Linked DNA regions of Homo sapiens. The protein of the gene in region 1 purifies or fractionates together with the protein of each later gene. This does not show direct contact. Each region holds a gene or a part of one and is shown in the gene's direction. Other genes may lie near its edges.

Region 1 (3,735 bases):
CCCTCCTCTCTGTTACTATTGGCCTTAAAATACACAGAGGACGGTTACAGTGTCCTAATAGCTGTTACATGTGTGTGTTTCAGCGTACTTGAATCAAGTGTACATTTATAGTACCAATAACCGCCTTTACAGCTTTACAGTTAACAATTCTCTCACAAAACTGTAGAGCATTAGGCATCTGAGAGCCATAGAGGGCCAACTTTGTTCCAGAGTGAACATGCTTTTTTTCCTCAACATATACACTACTGATTTTTTTTAAAAGTATGACTTTCAAGTGAATTAATGTATTGGTTAGGAGAACTGCTTGCTAAGTCCTTATTACCTCTTGTTAAAGCCTCAGAAGGCCGTGCTGAAAGCCAGAGGGGAAAAAAAGAGTAATGCACAGGTATCTCTTTTGCAGTGGTGACTGTATTTTGAGTACCTTGTGTGACAGGGTATTATTACAGCATCTTGTGGGAAAACCTATTAGGCCTTTGCATGTTAAAGCTGTATAATTTGTTGGGTTGTGAGTGGTCTGACTTAAATGTGTATTATAAAATTTAGACATCAAATTTTCCTACTAACTAACTTTATTAGATGCATACTTGGAAGCACAGTCATATCACACTGGGAGGCAATGCAATGTGGTTACCTGGTCCTAGGTTTGAACTGTCTTATTTCAAAAGATTTCTGAATTAATTTTTCCCTAGAATTTCTCCTTCATTCCAAAGTACAAACATACTTTGAAGAATGAAACAGATTGTTCCCATGAATGTATGCTCATACTCGACTAGAAACGATCTATGTTAAATGACTGTGTATATGAATTATTTCAAGTACTACCCCAAATAACTTTCTTATTGCTCTGAAAGAAGAAAAGCAATGTAAATCACTATGATTATTGCACAAACAACCAGAATTCTCCAACAATTTTAAGTAATCTGATCCTCTTCTTGGAGAAAATTGTTACCTAATAGTTTTTCCTTATGAATGTTATTACTACTGGTATAAATCAAATTTCTATAAATTTCCTACTTAAGTCTTAAGAACTGGGTTCTTCCTTTGATGTTATTCATGTTCAGAAAGGAAACAACACTTTACTCTTTTAGGACAATTCCTAGAATCTATAGTAGTATCAGGATATATTTTGCTTTAAAATATATTTTGGTTATTTTGAATACAGACATTGGCTCCAAATTTTCATCTTTGCACAATAGTATGACTTTTCACTAGAACTTCTCAACATTTGGGAACTTTGCAAATATGAGCATCATATGTGTTAAGGCTGTATCATTTAATGCTATGAGATACATTGTTTTCTCCCTATGCCAAACAGGTGAACAAACGTAGTTGTTTTTTACTGATACTAAATGTTGGCTACCTGTGATTTTATAGTATGCACATGTCAGAAAAAGGCAAGACAAATGGCCTCTTGTACTGAATACTTCGGCAAACTTATTGGGTCTTCATTTTCTGACAGACAGGATTTGACTCAATATTTGTAGAGCTTGCGTAGAATGGATTACATGGTAGTGATGCACTGGTAGAAATGGTTTTTAGTTATTGACTCAGAATTCATCTCAGGATGAATCTTTTATGTCTTTTTATTGTAAGCATATCTGAATTTACTTTATAAAGATGGTTTTAGAAAGCTTTGTCTAAAAATTTGGCCTAGGAATGGTAACTTCATTTTCAGTTGCCAAGGGGTAGAAAAATAATATGTGTGTTGTTATGTTTATGTTAACATATTATTAGGTACTATCTATGAATGTATTTAAATATTTTTCATATTCTGTGACAAGCATTTATAATTTGCAACAAGTGGAGTCCATTTAGCCCAGTGGGAAAGTCTTGGAACTCAGGTTACCCTTGAAGGATATGCTGGCAGCCATCTCTTTGATCTGTGCTTAAACTGTAATTTATAGACCAGCTAAATCCCTAACTTGGATCTGGAATGCATTAGTTATGACCTTGTACCATTCCCAGAATTTCAGGGGCATCGTGGGTTTGGTCTAGTGATTGAAAACACAAGAACAGAGAGATCCAGCTGAAAAAGAGTGATCCTCAATATCCTAACTAACTGGTCCTCAACTCAAGCAGAGTTTCTTCACTCTGGCACTGTGATCATGAAACTTAGTAGAGGGGATTGTGTGTATTTTATACAAATTTAATACAATGTCTTACATTGATAAAATTCTTAAAGAGCAAAACTGCATTTTATTTCTGCATCCACATTCCAATCATATTAGAACTAAGATATTTATCTATGAAGATATAAATGGTGCAGAGAGACTTTCATCTGTGGATTGCGTTGTTTCTTAGGGTTCCTAGCACTGATGCCTGCACAAGCATGTGATATGTGAAATAAAATGGATTCTTCTATAGCTAAATGAGTTCCCTCTGGGGAGAGTTCTGGTACTGCAATCACAATGCCAGATGGTGTTTATGGGCTATTTGTGTAAGTAAGTGGTAAGATGCTATGAAGTAAGTGTGTTTGTTTTCATCTTATGGAAACTCTTGATGCATGTGCTTTTGTATGGAATAAATTTTGGTGCAATATGATGTCATTCAACTTTGCATTGAATTGAATTTTGGTTGTATTTATATGTATTATACCTGTCACGCTTCTAGTTGCTTCAACCATTTTATAACCATTTTTGTACATATTTTACTTGAAAATATTTTAAATGGAAATTTAAATAAACATTTGATAGTTTACATAATAAATGTCGTCATGTTTTGCTTTCTTTTTAAGCAGTGTATATTCATTTAAATTGAAGGCCTTAGTTTTAATGATTGATTGAATTTATCTATTACTGATTCCCCAAATTTGTTGGAGCATCCCACTTTACACCAGTTTCCTGTACTAAAAACTGGAAGTGTTGGCAGACCCAGTCTCCTGGAAACACTCTTCTTTTCTTTCTCATGGTCTACATCCATCTGTCCTCTGGTCTGAAATATCTAGCTCCTCTTCTATTTCCACCTGTACAAGTTCAAAATCTTTTCATTTCAGGCCTTTAACAAGAATTTTGTCTTTTATCTCTTTACACTCTCAACTGTTTCCCCAGAATGTTCTTCCTGAAACTCAAATGAGGTCAAAATTTTCAATGGTTTCACATTTATATATATATATATATATATATTTTATTTTGTGGATGGATAAAATTCAAACTCCTCCATGTAACACATAGGGCTTTCCATCACCTGTCACCTTTCTTTCTCCAGCTTTCCACATTCTCGGCAGCCATATTAAATGTGTTCTCAGTGGTTCAATAGCAACAAAATATGATGCCATTATTTCTTTTTACACACTGAATACTCTTACAGGAATTAATTATATTTTCCTCCCCAACTCCCATCTCCTTATTCCACACACAGTTAACTTCTACCCAACATTTAAGTTCAAAAGTAACCTCTTCCAGAAGCCTTCCCCAAGTTGCTTTAAGACCTGACACCTGAACGCATTCATCATCTGGAGCACATCTTTTTTGTAGAACTCATTGAACACTGCTGTAATTGATTTACTGGACTCACTTTTCTGCCTGAATTTGCTGATTTTGTCTTTCGCCAACTGAAGCATAGTAGGTGCTCAATTAATATTTATTAAATGTATAATTTCAGTGCATGCATGAATAAATGACATTCATTAGGTTGCAGGGTTAGCTTTTTTATGATTAGCATAGAAGCAGGTTTTGTTACTCCTAAATTTAAGCAATCCATTAGCTTCTATGGAAACAGATTTTCTGTAAAAGCTAC
Region 2 (3,928 bases), on another chromosome or scaffold:
ATTGCAGTGCAATGATCTCTAGAACCTTGTCATCTGCTAAGCTCTGAAACTGTATACATTAAGTAACAACTCTCCATTTCCTGCTCAGCCCTTGGCAGCCACTTTCCGTTCATAAATTTGATTACTTTAGATACCTCATATTAGTGTAATATTTGTATTTATATTTTTGTGACTGACTTATTTCACTTAACATAATGTCCTTAAGGTTCATCCCTGTTATAGCATATGACAGGATTTTCTTCTCTTATAAGGCTTAATATTCTGTTGTATGCATATACTGCATTTTTTTCATCCATGCATCTTTCAATGGACATTTGGGTTGCTTCCACTGCTTGCCTGTTGTGAATAATGCTGCTATGAACATGGGTGTGCAAATATCTATTTGAGATCCTGCTTTCAGTTCTTTGGATATATACCCAGAAGTGGGATTGCTGGACCATATGGTAATACTATTTGTAATTTTTTGAGCAACTGTCATACTGTTTTCCATATGCAACATTTTACATTCCCACCAGCAGTCCTTACTTTTTCAGCTATAAATATTCTGTAATATGAATATACCAAAATTTAAATGTACCATATATATGACATGTATGTATCTATATATGGTACATATTACATGATTTATATTACATGGTATAAAGTAATTTAATCACTTCCCCATTGCAGTGATATTCTTATGTATATAATTATATATGTGTATTTCTCTGAGATAAATTCCAAGAAGTGGAATTTCTGGACCAAAAATTAGGCCTATTGAAATTCTTGGTAGATATTGTTAAATTGTACTCCCCCAGACTACCCATTGAATTAGAATGCTTGTTTCTTCTTCATATATTTCCAACATTGGATACTATCAATCTTTAAATCTTTTAAAATCTAATGAAGGAAAATGCTATCATTATAATTTGTGTATCCCAGATTACTAGTGTAATTGAACATTTTTTAATGTGTGGAATTTGACTTTTTTTATTACATATTCTTTGTACATTTTCTTGTTAGAATGTTTTCTTGATTTATAAGACTTCTCTATAGATCATATGCCAAATACATTCCTTTGTTACTTGTCTTTAACTTTCTCATGGTGTCTTGTCTTTACAAAAATTAAAATATTATTTTGGTTATCAATTCAGCTAATTTTTGTGTATGTAGATTTCTGAGTTTTATACCTTGCTATATGTGCTTTCTGTAATACAAGATTATTTAAAACATTATTTGCAGGCCTTATACTATTTTTTTTTTTTTTGCTCAACTTTTATGTCCATCTGGAATTAAGCTTTGAATGTAGTGTGAGGTAGGGATTCAATTTAGTTTTCTTTTTTATATGGGGAACCACTTACCCAAACTGTTGAATCGTCCATCTTTGCCCACATATTTGGAATGCCACCTTATTGTGTTATATGTTCACATATATACATGGGTTTGATTTCTGAGTTAGGTCCAATTATTCATACACCAACACCACACTTTTATTTACTATAGTTTGATAAAGTGTTTTAATTATATGTCAGTGTTAAGTCATCCCTCTAGTGACTCTTCTTATTCTGAATATTCCCATTTTTGAATTATTTTCTTCCAGAAAAACTTTGAACTGTCCAGTTATATTTAAAACAAAGCCAATCAGTTTTGATGTATATAAATTGAGGCAAAATTGATATGTTTAATTTACTCATTTGATAAATTTTTATTGACTGCCTACTGTGTTTCAGCACTCTTCTAGGAACTGGGGGTAGAATGAATGAAACAGTCCAGAATGGAGGTTACATTCTAAGGGGAAGATAGAAAATAGACAAAATAAATAAGTAACATTTATAGGATATTAGATGGCATGAGTGCTATCTAAAAGCGGGAAGGAAGGAAAGGGGACATAAAGGATGGGGTGAGGGTTACAATTTAAAATATTATGGTCACTTCATATAGCTTTGCTCAGACATGATAAGGTAATTGAGATTGACCTGAAAGGGATGAGGCAGTGATTGCTGGGTATATTTGAAGGAAGAGTATTTTGGATGGAGGAAACAGCAGAAGCAAAGACTGGTATGTCAGAACAGAGCAAGGCCATGTAGCTAGAGCTAAGTGAACAAAGATCAAGATGAGGTCAGGATTGTGATAGATGCCATTTTAAAAATCAAGAAAAGAAAAAAAATAAATAAAGATGAGGTCAGGAGCTAATGGTAGTGCCAGATTGTATCGGGAGGACCTTGTAGGTCACTGTAAACACTTCAACTAGTACTTTAACCGAGAAGGATATTGTTGGAGGTTTTAGTAAGAGAAGTGACATGGTGTTTTAACGGTGTCACTCTGCCTGTTCTGTTGAGAATAATCTGGGAGATGGGAGAGAAGCAAGGTGGAAGCAGGGAGACCAGATGTGCTGACAAGCCAGGAAATTCGAGTGATGGTAGTGTGTAGTTGTAGTTTTCTGGCTGTATTTTGAAGATTTAGTTCAGTATTCCCACATTTGTATGATTCTCTTCCCTCTCCACATATTCTGGGGCTATTAGATTGTCAGATTTTTAATATTTGTTTCTTTTTCTAGCTCACTAAATAGCCTGCCTGATTTTTTTCTACCTGAGGCTATGCACCGTTTTACTTCTCGTCTTCAGGAAGAATTGAATACTACTGACTTATACTCTTACAGGAAAGTTACTGACAATATTTCTTCCTGTATGGAGAACTTTAACTTGGGTAAGGCTGCACTTTTCTAGTCCTTTTTCTGGCTAACCCCTCTCATCACATCATAGTTTTTAAATGACATTGATTTTGGTCGTGAAACTCCTTACCAGTGTTCATTTTTTCCTCTACAGGTAGAGCAAGTGTTAATAATCTGCTTAAAAATGGTAAGTCCTATTATTTTATTTTGTTCCATGAGTTGATGGCTTGTATGAGTCATTTTGGAACTGGCTCTTTTAAGTTTCTTGGTAATAGGTAGAGCATTGTAGATAACTTAGGTACATCATGACCCTTCCTTTTAAATTTTTGTTTCCATATCATGATATCATTTTGGATAACAGTGATATAAAATATTTTATTTTATTGAAATTGAGCTTCACAGTTTTAAATTCTTATTTGTCATATTCTTTTTGTTTCAGTGCTTCATTTTCTGCAGAAGAGTTTAATTGAAATCCTGGAAGAAAATAGGCAAGTGCTATATGTTGGCATTTGTGTGTGCACACTTGCAGTTGTACATTATCTTTGTACAAAGAAAAATTTAAAAGTCTCAGAATGTGATCTTTTCATCCCTTTTCATTAATATTATCACTTTTATATTTTTTTTGAGATGGGGTCTTGCTGTGTCACCCAGGCTGTAGTGCAGTGGTGTGATCATAGCTCGCTGCAGCCTCAACCTCCTGGGCTCAAGTGTTTGTATCACCTCAGCTTCCCACGTAGCTGGGACTACAGGCATGCACCACCACACCCAGATAGTTTTTTTTATTTTTTTGGAGACAGAGTCTCACTATGTTGCCCAGGCTGGTCTTAAACTACTGGACTGAAGTAATGTGCCCGCTTTAGCCTCCCGAAGTGTTGAGATTACAGGCGTTAGTCACTATGCCCAGCCCCTTTCTCCATTAATATTAGACCCAATTATTTAAAATTTTTTTTAGAGGTTTGATATTTAATTTTAATAAATTCAAAGTTTTTATATTTGAACTTTATTAAAATATTTAAATGAAAAATTAAAAATTTAATAAATTGTTATGAGAATAAGTGAAAGAACTCTTTTCCTCACCTGAGTGTGTTCCTTTTTCATAGCATCCTGTTTTATTTTGTGAGTGAAATATCCTCTGTTACTTCTCTGAGGATATATTCATGATAGTTTTTTTGTTTTTTATCATCTTTACATAGTCTTTGTTTCTTCCAAGTTGCTTTTTTCTGTTTGCTGGTTTTGTTCAGTATATTTCTTATTAGAAGCTTTCCTCAGAAGTCTGGT
Region 3 (2,831 bases), on another chromosome or scaffold:
TTCTTTCCAGCCTGACTTTATGACTTCTCTGTTTTCAAGAATACGTAGCAAATGAGGCTGGTCACCAAGGTGTGTCTGCCTAGGCCTCTATGAGCATGTTATCTGCTTGTCTTTGAGTTTCTGTTCGTTTTACGCCGGCTTTTCAATGCAGGATTTCATTGACCTGCTTTTGAAAAATTCCCTCAGTGCTGTGTTACTAGCTCTTCTGGGCCCCAGGTGAGAACCTTAAACAAGTAATGTCTTTCTTGGTCTTGCCACAGCTTCTGGAAAACATGACAGAAGTGGTTCGGAAAGGCATTCAGGAAGCTCAAGTGGAGCTGCAGAAGGCAAGTGAAGAACGGCTTCTGGAAGAGGTGAGGCCCCCGATGGGCAGCAGGCTGGGGGAGCCGCCGTGAGGCCAGGTGGCCCTGAACTCTGGTCCTGTCTTGCAGGGGGTGTTGCGGCAGATCCCTGTAGTGGGCTCCGTGCTGAATTGGTTTTCTCCGGTCCAGGCTTTACAGAAGGGAAGAACTTTTAACTTGACAGCAGGTAGGACGGCATAGCCTCTTCCCAGGTCTTGCTGACCTTGGGAGGTTTCACCAAATGCCCTTGGGTCCCAACACTTCCCACTGAGAATCCCGCCCTGGTTCCCGTTCTTCATCACTGGGTGTGGGCCGGACATCTGAGGAGACAAGTTCTGGTGTGCCCTGTCCTCCTCCCCACCGCACCCTGGCGGCTGAAACAGCAAGGAAGCAGCTACCCACTCTCCACAGCTGTCACCACCGCAAGGCCATGAGGACACGCCCACTCAGCCGTGCAGACTCTCAGGGTGCTGTGTCTTGGGCATTTTGGTTCAGGGTTAATACTTCTTGTCTTCATGTGTGTTCTGCCCCAGCAGAGGACAGCTTTTGCAAGTGGCAATGCAGAGACTGAAGCATGGAGTGCTGGCACGGTTTATTTTGAACCAGGCAGCCAGCAAGCGTTTCAGCCGCTGGAATGTGGGGAGGGTGTTAACAGTCCGTGACTCCTTTCCTGTTCTACCAAGGAAATAATTTCCTACACTCGAGCCCCTTCCTTCATTCTTTCCCAGGAAACGATGACTCCATTGTCATGAAAGCAAAAGATAATCTGATTTCTAATCTGCCAAGCCTTAGCCTTCAGCAAAAAGGCACCCACTTCTTGTGGCTACAGTACGTTTCCCTGTTGGGCCTGGCTCCCTGGGTGTGCTTACGCCATACTGCTGGCGGATGCTGGCGGTACTGGCCCTGTGAGGTGGCTTTCTCTAGCTCACGGCACATTCATAAGTGCCCTTCTCTCCACCAGTCTGTGGCAGGCTCAGTGGCTGGAAGGAGGTTATTGGGGAGCAAGGCTGTGTGAGGGCAGGTGGTGTCTTCAAGGGCAGCCTGTGCCTGTAGCTTCTACCCAGCCCTCTCCTCTCCCGCAGGCTCTCTGGAGTCCACAGAACCCATATATGTCTACAAAGCACAAGGTGCAGGAGTCACGCTGCCTCCAACGCCCTCGGGCAGTCGCACCAAGCAGAGGCTTCCAGGTAAGTGACGCCTCTGCACCGAGTTCAGGTAACAGGTTTCCCCTGTTGACTGTTACTTGCGTTTGTTTTCTGGGTTCTTGAACTCCAGAGGTCTATTTCTCTTAAGACCAACTACTACCATCTCTTTAACCATCTTGGTAGCCGTGGGATTCAGCCTTGAAGAAATCCCACGGTAGTGCGCTAAGGGGAAGTTGGGGTCTTGAAAGATGACATTGTCACTGTGGTGTTTACCCTCCTGGGCGTTTCCTAATGAAGATGACCTTAGAGTTCCCCGGCCTGGGGAGCATGTTGGTGTCAAGCTAGCAGCTCTCGGTTTTCTCATCTCCTAAAACACCTCAGAGCCAGTAAAGGTTTCTGCTGAAGCTGTGTTGTGAAATAAAGCAATTATCTGTTGCAGAGACAGCCTGTGTTGCAGAAGTATCCTCACTGAGTTTCAGCGCAGTCTGTCTGCCCTTTCTGTAGGCCAGAAGCCTTTTAAAAGGTCCCTGCGAGGTTCAGATGCTTTGAGTGAGACCAGCTCAGTCAGTCACATTGAAGACTTAGAAAAGGTGGAGCGCCTATCCAGTGGGCCGGAGCAGATCACCCTCGAGGCCAGCAGCACTGAGGGACACCCAGGGGCTCCCAGCCCTCAGCACACCGACCAGACCGAGGCCTTCCAGAAAGGGGTCCCACACCCAGAAGATGACCACTCACAGGTAGAAGGACCGGAGAGCTTAAGATGAGACTCATTGTGTGGTTTGAGACTGTACTGAGTATTGTTTCAGGGAAGATGAAGTTCTATTGGAAATGTGAACTGTGCCACATACTAATATAAATTACTGTTGTTTGTGCTTCACTGGGATTTTGGCACAAATATGTGCCTGAAAGGTAGGCTTTCTAGGAGGGGAGTCAGCTTGTCTAACTTCATGTACATGTAGAACCACGTTTGCTGTCCTACTACGACTTTTCCCTAAGTTACCATAAACACATTTTATTCACAAAAAACACTTCGAATTTCAAGTGTCTACCAGTAGCACCCTTGCTCTTTCTAAACATAAGCCTAAGTATATGAGGTTGCCCGTGGCAACTTTTTGGTAAAACAGCTTTTCATTAGCACTCTCCAGGTTCTCTGCAACACTTCACAGAGGCGAGACTGGCTGTATCCTTTGCTGTCGGTCTTTAGTACGATCAAGTTGCAATATACAGTGGGACTGCTAGACTTGAAGGAGAGCAGTGATTGTGGGATTGTAAATAAGAGCATCAGAAGCCCTCCCCAGCTACTGCTCTTCGTGGAGACTTAGTAAGGACTGTGTCTACTTGAGCT
Region 4 (3,928 bases), on another chromosome or scaffold:
CTGCCTCCTCATCTGGCCAGGGCTCAGATATCCTTTGTGCCCTGCTCTCCTGGTGAGTCCCGTTTTCTGGAGGCCTGGTGAATACCATTCCCTCTGTCTAGGGGGATCCCGAAAGAACTTTCCTTGTTTCCTTGCACAACAGCCTGAAGCAGTTTGAAGCTGTGGGTCACCTTAGAGATGGGCCTTTGTTTTCTTTCACTTGTGTACTTGAGGGTGTGCAGAAGAGTGACTCAGTTGCCTGTAGGTAACACCTGGCTCTCTGGATCTTACTGAAGAACTAAAAGAGACTCTGAGCAACTCAGTGAAGATTGACTCTGGCCAGGCACGGTGGGAGATGCCTGTAATCCCACTGCTTTGGGAGGCTGAGATGGGAGGATTGGTTGAGGCCAGGGGTTCGAGACCAGTCTGGACAACATAGGGAGATCCTGGCTCTACAAAAAATTAGCCGGATGTGGTGGTACTTGCCTATAGTCCCAGCTACTCAAGAGGCCGAAGTGAGAGAATTGCCTGAGCCCAGGAGTTTGAAGCTGCAATGAGCTGTGATTGCACCACTGCACTCCAGCCTGGATGACAAGCAAGACCTTGTCTCTACCTAAATAATCAACCCTGTACTTCTTACCCTTAGGCACCCCCAAGCCCTCTAAGATTCTCTAGCAGATACTTTATTTTCCAAGCAAGCCTTCAAGCATAGGATGTTTTTTTTTTCTTATTGCTCCTGAAAGGCTTTTCTCTCTCTAAGCAAAAATCTCTGCAGTGTTTGTTCCCTGCTATCTGCAGTCAAAAATCTTTCGTTTGATAGAGCTTAAAATCTTGGCACTTTGTAAATAGGTAGAGAAATCAGATTAATATGAGTTTACTTATTTTATATATATATATATATATATATATATATATATATATATAATTTTTTTTTTTTTGAGACGGAGTCTTATTTTGTCACCCAGGTTGGAGTGCAGTAGCACAATCCTGGCTCACTGCAGTCTCTGCCTACCGGGTTCAAGAAATTTTCCTGCCTCAGCCTCCTGAGTAGCTAGGATTTCAAGTGTGCACCACCACGCCTGGCTAATTTTTGTATTTTTAGTAGAGATGGGGTTTTGCCATGTTGCCCAGGATGGTCTCAAACTCCTGACCTCAAGTGATCCACCTGTGTTGGCCTCCCAAAGTGTTGGGATTACAGGCGTGAGCCACTGTGCCTGGCCTGATACGAATTAAGTGTAAAGATTGATCATGGTTGGGAAGATGAGACCTTAAATGGGAAAAGGACAAAGACTGTTTGTTTGCATGTGTTCAGAATGGTGTATGGTCAAGTACTAGTTGACTGTCTCCTATCTTGGCCAAGTCTCACATCAGCTAATATCTTAACTTGAGACATGTCATTGGTAGATAATTATTTCTATTCATTGATATAATAAAAATTTGCTATCTTTTAAGAAAATGAACCAGCAGAATTCTTACCTCAGTTCCTTATAATCTGATTAAGGTTTGAAAAAGTTTCATTAAAAAGATGTAAAATAAAATCACAATAACATTAGGCATCAGAGAAGGTTTATTTGATCTTTTAAAAAATAATGTGTTATTGACAGTGAGTGATGATTTTTGAGATTCGAATAAACTGTGGCCTGTTGACTGAGGCTGCCATATAATCTTTTACAATTTCACACCCCTCCCTGACCATGCTGCATGGTCATATTCTGGCACCTTCCATTCCTTTGTTTTTCTTTTCTTTTCTGTCCATCGTCATTTTCTTCAGTGCCTTCAGGGTTTAAAATGATTGTTTAAAAGTCCGCAGTATTTACCGAGTGTTTCATCACTTCATCCTATCAGGAATCTGAGTATTTGTCCTTTACCTCTTGTCAGGGCTGAGGGAGGAAGACGGCATGGTTACATGGGACACCTAACGAGGATAGCTAACTGTATCGTGCACAGCACTGACAAGGGCCCCAACAGTGCATTAGTGCAGCAGCTTATCAAAGGTAAGTTATTTGTGAAATTTGAATTACATTTTTGTTGGGTTGCAGGAAGGATTTAAGGGTCAAGTAGAAATGCATGTAGCATTTTTAATAGTGATTTGTGGGACTTCTTTATATTTGGCAAATTATGTATTTGAATGAGGTTCTTGAGAATGTGTTTGAACAGTGTTGTTTTTTGGTTGTATTTATGTTCATGTAGTTACAGACCATTCCATAAGCATTGGCAGGCTTGGCTGGATTCAGCATATAAGAGTCACCTATTGTCATTCTTAAAGAGCATTGCTTGGTGAATCATGCTTTTGAGTATTGTGAGTGTGAAGTACTCATATGCTAGCAGTTGAGCCACTTCAGCTATAATTTTGCCTTTTATTTTCTGAAGGCCTCTATATAGCCTCTGAATTAAGTTTCTTTAACTGGAATATTAGGGCATTTATCAGCATTTCTTTGATGTCGCTGTCACTAAAATGAGGGGTATTGGCTTCTAAAGGACTCTTTCTGTATAGCATTTCAGTTTAATCAGCCCAAGCTTATTTGGAAGAAACTATATGGATGCTTTTTTACACTGGCCCCAAGCCATGAGCCTTCTTCTAAAATGAGAGAACTGTGTACTCTGGGTTTTTGTACCAACAGGATTACCAATCCTGAGACCTATTCTGAATGTGAACAGTCTTTAACATCCATGGTACAGAATTTGTTCAGTTAAAATCATTTCCCAGTGGGTCTTCCATTTTTTCTTAAGAATGTTTGTTTGTTCAAGAGGCTATTCCCTGTTGAATGTGCACTAAAACCACAGTTGTCACCAGGGATGGAAAAAGTGGTGTGTGCCCACTTCTAATTTTGCTTCTTGAGAGAGGCATAAGAGGTATAAGCCTCTTCCTTGGGCCATTTCACCACACAGTTTATCTTTATGTCCTAACTAAGAAGAAATGGCCATGTGATATGACTGAGTTTTTAGATCAGACTTTCCTTTATGGAAGCTGCTTGCCAGGTGGTACATGTGTACACTTCTGTGAGTGTGCACACATGCATGGCTGTTTTAAACCAGAATTATCAGATGACTAGTTAGGCCTCTAAAATTACGTCATGGTTTGATTTTCTCAGAAAAGCAGTTGTTTATCCTTTTCTTTAACATTTCTCTAGAAGGTAGAATTTCACTATTACCTGTGTATCCACGTTGGCCCATGACACAAATATTTAGGAAACATGATCTTAGAGCAATTTGAAAAGCCATACTAGGTTCTGTGGAACATTCATTGGCCAGCTGCCAATGAGAGCATTTCAAGAAAGTGTGCAGGAGCTGTCATTTGCAGCATTTTCTAGACTTAACTTGACCATGGAAAAAGATCCCCCTACCCCCGACACGTTAAACACCTACCACCTTTCTCAGAAAAGCTTGTTGGAAACACACTTTCCAGGTTAAGCTTCTACCAGAGCATTTTCAGAAACTTGTTAAGTTCACAAGCTACCTTAGGGCTCTTGGCCTCATCAAGCCTATACCATTGGGTAGGGGGATTCTGGTTCCTGAAAGTCCATGGGATTTGGGCCTATGGAAGGTTTAATAATTCCATTTCTCTAAGAGCACTGGGCTGGCTGTCACCCAGTTTCTCAGCTGATAGGGCCTGCTCACCATTGATGAACCAGGTGAGTAGGCCCACTTTTATATTACCTGCTTACTTTATTTGTCTCCGTGGAGGTCATTGTGGTGATAATGCTTTTTTGCTTTTCTCACTCTGAAGATCTTCCCGACGAAGTCAGGGAACGATGGGAGACGTTCTGCACAAGCTCCTTAGGAGAAACTAACAAGAGGAACACGGTAGATCTAGTAGGTTTTACAAGGTTACATTTTTATTCTTTCAGTGCTCTTAGCCTTTGCCCATTTATTCAGAAAGATGTAAAAGATCTTCCATTTACCTCAGTAACTGTGAGCCAAAGATAAATTCTTATCTCTTTACCAGGGA

What was found. Proteins that work in one complex are often made in the same cells at the same time.
Region 2: the proteins of SLC7A11 (region 1) and THADA purify together in Homo sapiens (affinity purification with mass spectrometry; one large-scale study listed by BioGRID and IntAct). This does not show direct contact.
Region 3: the proteins of SLC7A11 (region 1) and PDXDC1 purify together in Homo sapiens (affinity purification with mass spectrometry; one large-scale study listed by BioGRID and IntAct). This does not show direct contact.
Region 4: the proteins of SLC7A11 (region 1) and PPP6R3 purify together in Homo sapiens (affinity purification with mass spectrometry; one large-scale study listed by BioGRID and IntAct). This does not show direct contact.

Annotation. Positions count from the first base shown.
Region 1 is NC_000004.12:138,163,064-138,166,798, reverse strand, and holds the end of SLC7A11 (cystine/glutamate transporter), read left to right. Parts: 3' UTR 1-2,702; downstream 2,703-3,735. UniProt on the Homo sapiens protein: Heterodimer with SLC3A2, that functions as an antiporter by mediating the exchange of extracellular anionic L-cystine and intracellular L-glutamate across the cellular plasma membrane.
Region 2 is NC_000002.12:43,585,611-43,589,538, reverse strand, and holds part of THADA (tRNA (32-2'-O)-methyltransferase regulator THADA), read left to right. Parts: intron 1-2,536; coding exon 2,537-2,685; intron 2,686-2,804; coding exon 2,805-2,837; intron 2,838-3,089; coding exon 3,090-3,138; intron 3,139-3,928. UniProt on the Homo sapiens protein: Together with methyltransferase FTSJ1, methylates the 2'-O-ribose of nucleotides at position 32 of the anticodon loop of substrate tRNAs.
Region 3 is NC_000016.10:15,034,026-15,036,856, forward strand, and holds part of PDXDC1 (pyridoxal-dependent decarboxylase domain-containing protein 1), read left to right. Parts: intron 1-260; coding exon 261-353; intron 354-431; coding exon 432-528; intron 529-1,423; coding exon 1,424-1,528; intron 1,529-1,925; coding exon of another isoform or gene 1,926-1,990; coding exon 1,991-2,250; 3' UTR 2,251-2,831.
Region 4 is NC_000011.10:68,572,252-68,576,179, forward strand, and holds part of PPP6R3 (serine/threonine-protein phosphatase 6 regulatory subunit 3), read left to right. Parts: intron 1-1,857; coding exon 1,858-1,973; intron 1,974-3,706; coding exon 3,707-3,792; intron 3,793-3,928.